Linked DNA regions of Homo sapiens. The protein of the gene in region 1 interacts with the protein of each later gene in a pairwise test. Each region holds a gene or a part of one and is shown in the gene's direction. Other genes may lie near its edges.

Region 1 (4,041 bases):
AGGTGGTAGAAGATAAGGTTGGAAATAATAGACCGGTGAAGGGCTTTGAATCAAGATGAGGAATTTTCACGTCTTGTGATTCCACAGGAAGTTTTTGAGGCTGGATGTGAAGCCATCTGGTTTGATTTGATTTAGGGTGCTGATGCCAATGGCATCATGTAGGATGGATTGGAGGGCAGTGGGACTGAGGCAGTGATACAGCTAAACAGAGGTGGTAGTTGGGAAACAGAGGGGTGAGAAGACATTGCAGAGGCAAAGCTGTCATATGTTGGTGACTTAGTGGGAGAGAAGATGGCTAGAGTTGAAGACCTCAGCCAAAATTTTAACCTGAGTGCTGAGACAGTGTTTATTACCTTTCACCAAAATGGAGGGAGAAGTAGATTTGAGGGACCAGGCAAGTTCTCTTTTGAGCATATTAAATGTGACATGCCTAATGAGATAGCCCTATAAATATTATGGGTCTAGAACTTGTAAAGAGATGTTTGGGCTAGAGACCTAGATTTGATGGTTCTCTCCATAGAAAAGATTGTTCAATCAAGAGAGTATAGAGTAAGAAACGAACTAAACAATTTTGAAAGGGGGCATAGCCAGGCAGAGCAGCCAGCGAAGGGGAATGAGCACCTGTGGTCCTGTGCGTTGGAGCAGAGCCTGGAGGGGAATGAGGCTGAGCTGGAGGTGGCAATGACAAAAGCATGGGCCAGTGGCAGGTGCTGCAGAGGGCTTTGTGCAGGTGTGTTGGTAGTCAGGCAGCATCCCGATTGCAAGAAGAGAATAGGGGATGAGCTAGAGGAAAAGTTTGTTTAGGAAGGAAGTTGATGAGACCGTGGCTTCAGAAGGAAAGTAAGAGTTACAGGGAATTTTCTTGGCAAGCCAATTAGTCTGTTCATATATATATGAAGGTTATAAAAGTTTAAGGTTGGCCGGGCGCGGTGGCTCACGCCTGTAATCCCAGCACTTTGGGAGGCTGAGGTGGGCAGATCACGAGGTCAGGAGGTTGAGACCATCCTGGCTAACATGGAGAAACCCCATCTCTACTAAAAATACAAAAAATTAGCTGGACGTGGTGGCGGGCGCCTGTAGTCCCAGCTACTTTGTAGGCTGGGGCAGGAGAATGGCACAAACCCAGGAGGTGGAGCTCGCGGTGAGCTGAGATTGTGCCACTGCACTCTAGCCCGGGCAACAGAGCGAGATTCAAGTTTAGGGTTAAAAATGGGGTAAACTGTACAAGAGAATAGAAACAATTGAGAATTTTTTACCCTTCTCTCCCCATCCCCAGCAGACACACATAGATCCACTCTTTACTAGTTACCTAAATGCTGAATGGTTTGAATGCCCAGGCATCCATAGATAGGCTTTACTTTGGAAGGTTAGTAATCTTATTTTAGTCTAGCATGGTTACCCACGGATTTGCATAGAACTAAATACATACACATAAATGAGTGCAAGTAAAACTGGGGAAGTGTAAATAAGATTAGTGTACTGTATCAACATCAGTATCCTGGTTGTGATACTATACTGTAGATTCGCAAGTTGTTGCTATTGGGAGAGACATTGGATCTCTCTCTCTATCATTTTTTACAACTTCATTTGAATCTGTAATTATCTTCAAAAGATTTTTACAAAAATAAACATTAAAAATTGATGTATGAGTTGTATATTGAAAAACTACTTTATAGGCATACTGGGAGTTTTGGGGGTCATTTGACGACTCAATTCTTCACAATTCCTCATCTCACAAGTGAACTCATGAGTGACTCCACTATACAAGAGAAAAGGGGATTCCAAGTCATGCGGGCGGGACTAGCCTTGGAAGGCAGAGGGGCATGAGTATATCTGAAGCTGAGGAGAGGAGAAAAGGATTCATGCAAATGCAGAGCAAGTTGGCTTTGGAAGAGAAGTGAGGAATGCATACTGTAGTGTGTGTGATGACAGGCTAGCTGGGAGGCGGCAGGAGGGTGGATTGGGTGACCTTTGGTGGGGAGTAGAGGAGTTTCGAACATTGCAGCTTAATGGGTGGATGTAGGAACAGGAGTGTGAAATGGCCTATGTGCCCCACTGTGGCTGGCCACATAAGAAGCATGCTCTTCCTCTTCCCTTTTTCAGGGCTCTTAGACCTGGAGATCCTGGATTCTGTGCCCGTGCAAGGGTCCCAATGCCTTCAAACAAGGACTATGTTGTCAGGCCCAAATGGAATGTGGAAATGGAGTCATCCAGGGTAAGCAAGCGGAGGATCGGCAAGGTGGATCTCACCTGCAGATTACTGTTTGACTCTTTACTTCATGTGTTAATAACCCTTGTAGCTCTTGAAGTTTGTCTGATTCAGAGAGGACTGTTTTCTGGTCGCTTATCTAGCCAAACCACAAATTGAGCAATAGAGAAAGGAAAAGTATTACCCAGGATTAAAGTTTATTGCTGATGAATTTTTCTTCAGTCTTAATTCAACATTATCAGGTAGGGAAGTTTCTTCTTATTAATCCCTTTACTTCAAGCAAGGCTTGAAATTGAAACCTGGAGTATTCTGATACAGTGAATTTTTTTTTTTAATAACCATGAGAAACAGAGCTTACGTGCTTCAGCAGACCTACCTCTCCCTTTCTCTTCAACGGTTTAAGCAATTCCATTGCAAATGATTAGGGTAGACACTTATTCTGTTATCATTGTAAATACTGCTCAGTGGATCTTCAGTGTTTCTCAGTAATCTCTTTTTATTCTCCAATCAAACTACTACTTCTAGCCTGGTATTCTTAAAAAGGGCCTAAGCCGATTGGAAAAGCATAAGAGGCGATTTGCAGAACAGAAACGACTCAGCAAAGTGCATCGTGCTGTCAAGTTCAGCATTGAAGGCAACAGGATGCCCCTATAGGCCTGGCCCTACCAGAGTATATACACGAGAGGTATTCCCAAGGAAGCATGTACTGTGCATGGGCTTGAATTGTCAACAGTCAGAGTGAAAAGTGTGTGTGTGTGTGCTTTCTTAATCAGAAGAGGCCAGGTCTGCTTTTAGTTTCAAAATAATGACCCTAACAGGCACCTTGGGATATTCAAGGCCTCTTGAATATTTAGAAATTGACATGGAAGTCCCTTCCTTTATCAGTATCCTAGAGAGTAATAGATAATTACTTCCCTAATATGCATTTGGGTCTTCCTGACTGGTACCCGTTTTTATGAAAAAGGTTTTTGTTAGGACCCAGAATTACAGTGATATGTGTTACAGGCATATAAACTAGTTAGTGGTTTCCTGGTGGGAGGTAGCTTGTTTCCTGCTGTCAGTGGCTCAGCAACATGCATTTGAGAACTCATTACATAAAGCCTTATACTAAATATTTAGGAGATGAATTTGATTAACACATACTCAAAATGTGGTCAGAAGTGGAAAAGACTTGGGAACATTCATAAGCCCAACTCACTGATCCACTATGCTTTGAGACTAATGGCACCTTTGTTGCGGAGCACACACAGTGTGTGTGTGTTGCCTGCCTATGGTTCTTCTCCATGACCCCTGCTTTGGCAGCTGTTTCCACTGACTCCACTCTCCTACCTGCCAGTTCATGTTGCTATTAAGTGACTATCAAAACAAAACGTACTTTCTTATTTCTTGAGAATAAATCGAGGGTAGAGAAGGACTAGTTCTGTGCCAAGAACTTCCTCCTCTCTCTCTCCCTCCTCTTTCTTGTGCCCATATCCGTGTCCCTGACCACCTCTCCATGTCCCCTGTACCTGTTTCTTTTTTGCCCTTCTGTCCTTTTTCTTTTTCTTTTTCTTTTTCTTTTTGAGACGGAGTCTTGCTCTGTCGCCCAGGTTGGAGTGCAGTGGTGCGATCTCCACTCACTGCAAGTTCCGCCTCCTGGGTTCACACCATTCTCCTGCCTCAGCCTCCCAGTTAGCTGGGACTACAGGCTCCTGCCACCATGCTCGGCTAATTTTTTGTATTTTTAGTAGAGACGGGGTTTCATCCTGTTAGCCATGATGGTCTTGATCTCCTGACCTCGTGATCCACCCGCCTCGGCCTCCCAAAGGGATTACAGGCATGAGCCATCTCCT
Region 2 (2,820 bases), about 43 Mb from region 1:
ATAGTCTAGACAACTCTGAAACTAAGGGTATAAATCTTTCTGGCCTCTAGGATTTTGCTAACATACTAACAAGCCTAAAAAAGTCTATTGTTGTGGTCCAAAAGAAAGGTGACACAGTGACATAAAGGATCAGCAGAAAGGAATAAATAGTACTGAAAACAATGGGTCCAATGAAGGTGGAGAATGTTGTTAAGCAGGCAATGACCAACGTGTAGACTACAGTAAAAGTTGTCAAGATGAAGAGAAAGAAGTAACATCAGTTCCCCTATTGGAAAGATGTAACAAAATGGCATCTCTAGCATGGAAGAGGTTGCATTAAAAACAAACAAACAAAAACTTCCTCTGTGTTCCGATGAGACCTTTAGTAAAGGATGTCATGTAGATGGGTGGATGACATGAGATGAAGGATTAACAGACCTCTAGGCACACAGTCTTCTCATTAGCAAAGTCTCCATATTTTGCAGAATTTGTACCTTCTTTGGGAAATGATTATGTTCATGAAACACTCTGGCTACTGTCCTATGAGGGAAGCTATATTGAGGTGATAGAGATTGCTTTCTATGGATAGGAGGTAGAAAATATAATGAGGGCTGGGTGCAGTGTCTCATGCCTGTAATCCCAGCACTTTGGGAGGCCGAGGTGGGTGGATCACCTGAGGTCAGGAGTTTGAGACTAGCCTGGGCAACATGGTGAAACCCTGTCTCTACCAAAAATACAAAACTTAGCCAGGCGTGGTGGCACACACCTGTAGCTACTCAGGAAACTGAGGCACGAGAATCACTTGAACCCGGGAGGCAGAGGCTGCAGTGAGCCAAGATCATGCCACTGCACTCCAGTCTGGGTAACAGAGCGACACCCTGTCTCAGGGAAAAAAAAAAAAAAAAAAAGAAAGAAAGAAAATATAGTGAGGATCATTTATCTTCCAAAGTGCAAAATAGAAGTGCAGAATTTTCTCTATTTGTACTCAGATATACCTGTGGTATAATTGTTAGTGTTTATTGCATTGTGCCTTTCACCTGCTCTGACTGACAGTTCAATTTCATTCTAAGGAGCCTGTTTGCTGCAACACTGAACGTTAATAACACACATTCTGTTGTCCATTTTCATTTTCAGTCCTAATCTATGAACCAGAAAATCCTGAGGCCAAGGAGTTTTTCACACTTATTGAAGAAATGTTGCTGATGGGTAATTTTAAAAATTGAAATTCCTTGTTTCTCATAGAACTATAAGCAGTCACTTTAAAAACCCATTATCCCGGGAGATTGTCGATACATCTTTAGGAAGTGGTTAAGAAAAGGCTAAATGGCTGTCTTAAATGGTTTAGTGAAACAGCTTGTCCTCTGTGGATGGTCACAATGACCCCCTTCTCTCTGTGGGATAGAACTGCCCGAGCAGAGCAGGCTCCCTGGGCACCAGGCATCAGGTATTGACAAGCAGAATATGCTAACACGGCTGCGTGTTAAAGGAATTACCCACAATTCCAAGGGAAGCCACACCCTCTCAATTACCTTGTCTCAATTCCTTTCAATGGACAATTTTACTATTGTCAATAAAATTCTATGATAGAAAGAATTCTATGAAATCGTTAAATAGAATTTCATTGACAATAGTAAAATTATTTTTATAGACTTATGTTTTAAATTATCAAAAACACCTGTATGCCAGTAAAAATACATTTCTTCTTTGTACTACCATTTGACCCTAGTGCAGTTAGCCAAGTCCAACTCAGTTCTTATGTTACAAATATATGTATTTCTTGGTAGAGGGAGGGGCAAGGAGAATTATTTTTCAGAGTGAAATATTAAGAAACACCTTAAGCAATCCTCTTCCTTTCTGTGGCAGAGAAAACTCAGAATCATGAGCAAGACGGTGAAAACAGTGATGAAGACAGCAGTGGTGAGAGTAAAGGAGAAAGCGATGAGGAGCTGAGTGACGAGAGCTCTGACGAAGGTGAAGATGGATCATGAGTGTTGCTGCAATACTTGAAGCTTCATGTATTTTCATTAATGTATACCATGCAAATATAAAGACAAGTGACATTTTAGTCTAATTCTTCCTTATTTGGTACAGTTTCTTTTAAGTTATCTATATTCTTGGCTTAAGACTCTTCCTAATATTTAGGCCTTAGCTCAATATATGAGTTACTCAGAGAGGAAAATAGTTGAAAACACTTACATAGGACTGTGTGCCAGGTACTGTTCAAACTGCTCTACACACATTGTATAATTCAACAACCCCATTAAGTACTATTATTATGCCATTCTACAGATGAGAAAACTGAGGCACAGACAGGGTGAATAATTTGTCCAGTATCATACACCTATTTGTTTGTAGAGCCTGGATTTGTGCATGGACATTATTGCCCCAGAATTCATATGTTTAGTTCCCTATAAATTACCACCATTTCAGGCACTTTTATATCATTCATCATTTGTTTGTTTGTCTAGATAATGGGATCTTGCCACATCAACCAGGCTGGTCTCAAACTCCTGGCCTCAAGTGATCCCCCCATCTTGGCCTCCCAAAGTTCTGGGATTACAGGCGTGAGCCACTGTGCCCAGCCCATTCATTGTATGTTCTTTACAGCATGTATCAGTGTCTGAAATGCTTGTTTAATTGTTCATTTCATCTTCTCCCTACCTGCCAGAGAATGTAACACCCATGAAGCAGAACTTTATCATTTTCCTCATAATATCCCAGCAACTGGACAAGTACCTGGCAAATAATAGAACACATATACCAAATTAATGAACAAATGAAGTGAAAGTTAGTGGAAATATTTATATTCTTTCATAAAACATTTACAAGACTTATACTTCT

Evidence for each region. The genes of interacting proteins can lie anywhere in the genome.
Region 2: the proteins of IWS1 (region 1) and ERICH2 interact in a two-hybrid assay, tested with the Homo sapiens proteins (one large-scale study listed by BioGRID).

Annotation. Positions count from the first base shown.
Region 1 is NC_000002.12:127,484,727-127,488,767, reverse strand, and holds part of IWS1 (protein IWS1 homolog), read left to right. Parts: intron 1-2,103; coding exon 2,104-2,215; intron 2,216-2,734; coding exon of another isoform or gene 2,735-2,863; exon of another isoform or gene 2,864-2,894; intron 2,895-4,041.
Region 2 is NC_000002.12:170,796,928-170,799,747, forward strand, and holds the end of ERICH2 (glutamate-rich protein 2), read left to right. Parts: intron 1-1,113; coding exon 1,114-1,185; intron 1,186-1,842; coding exon 1,843-1,967; 3' UTR 1,968-2,050; downstream 2,051-2,820.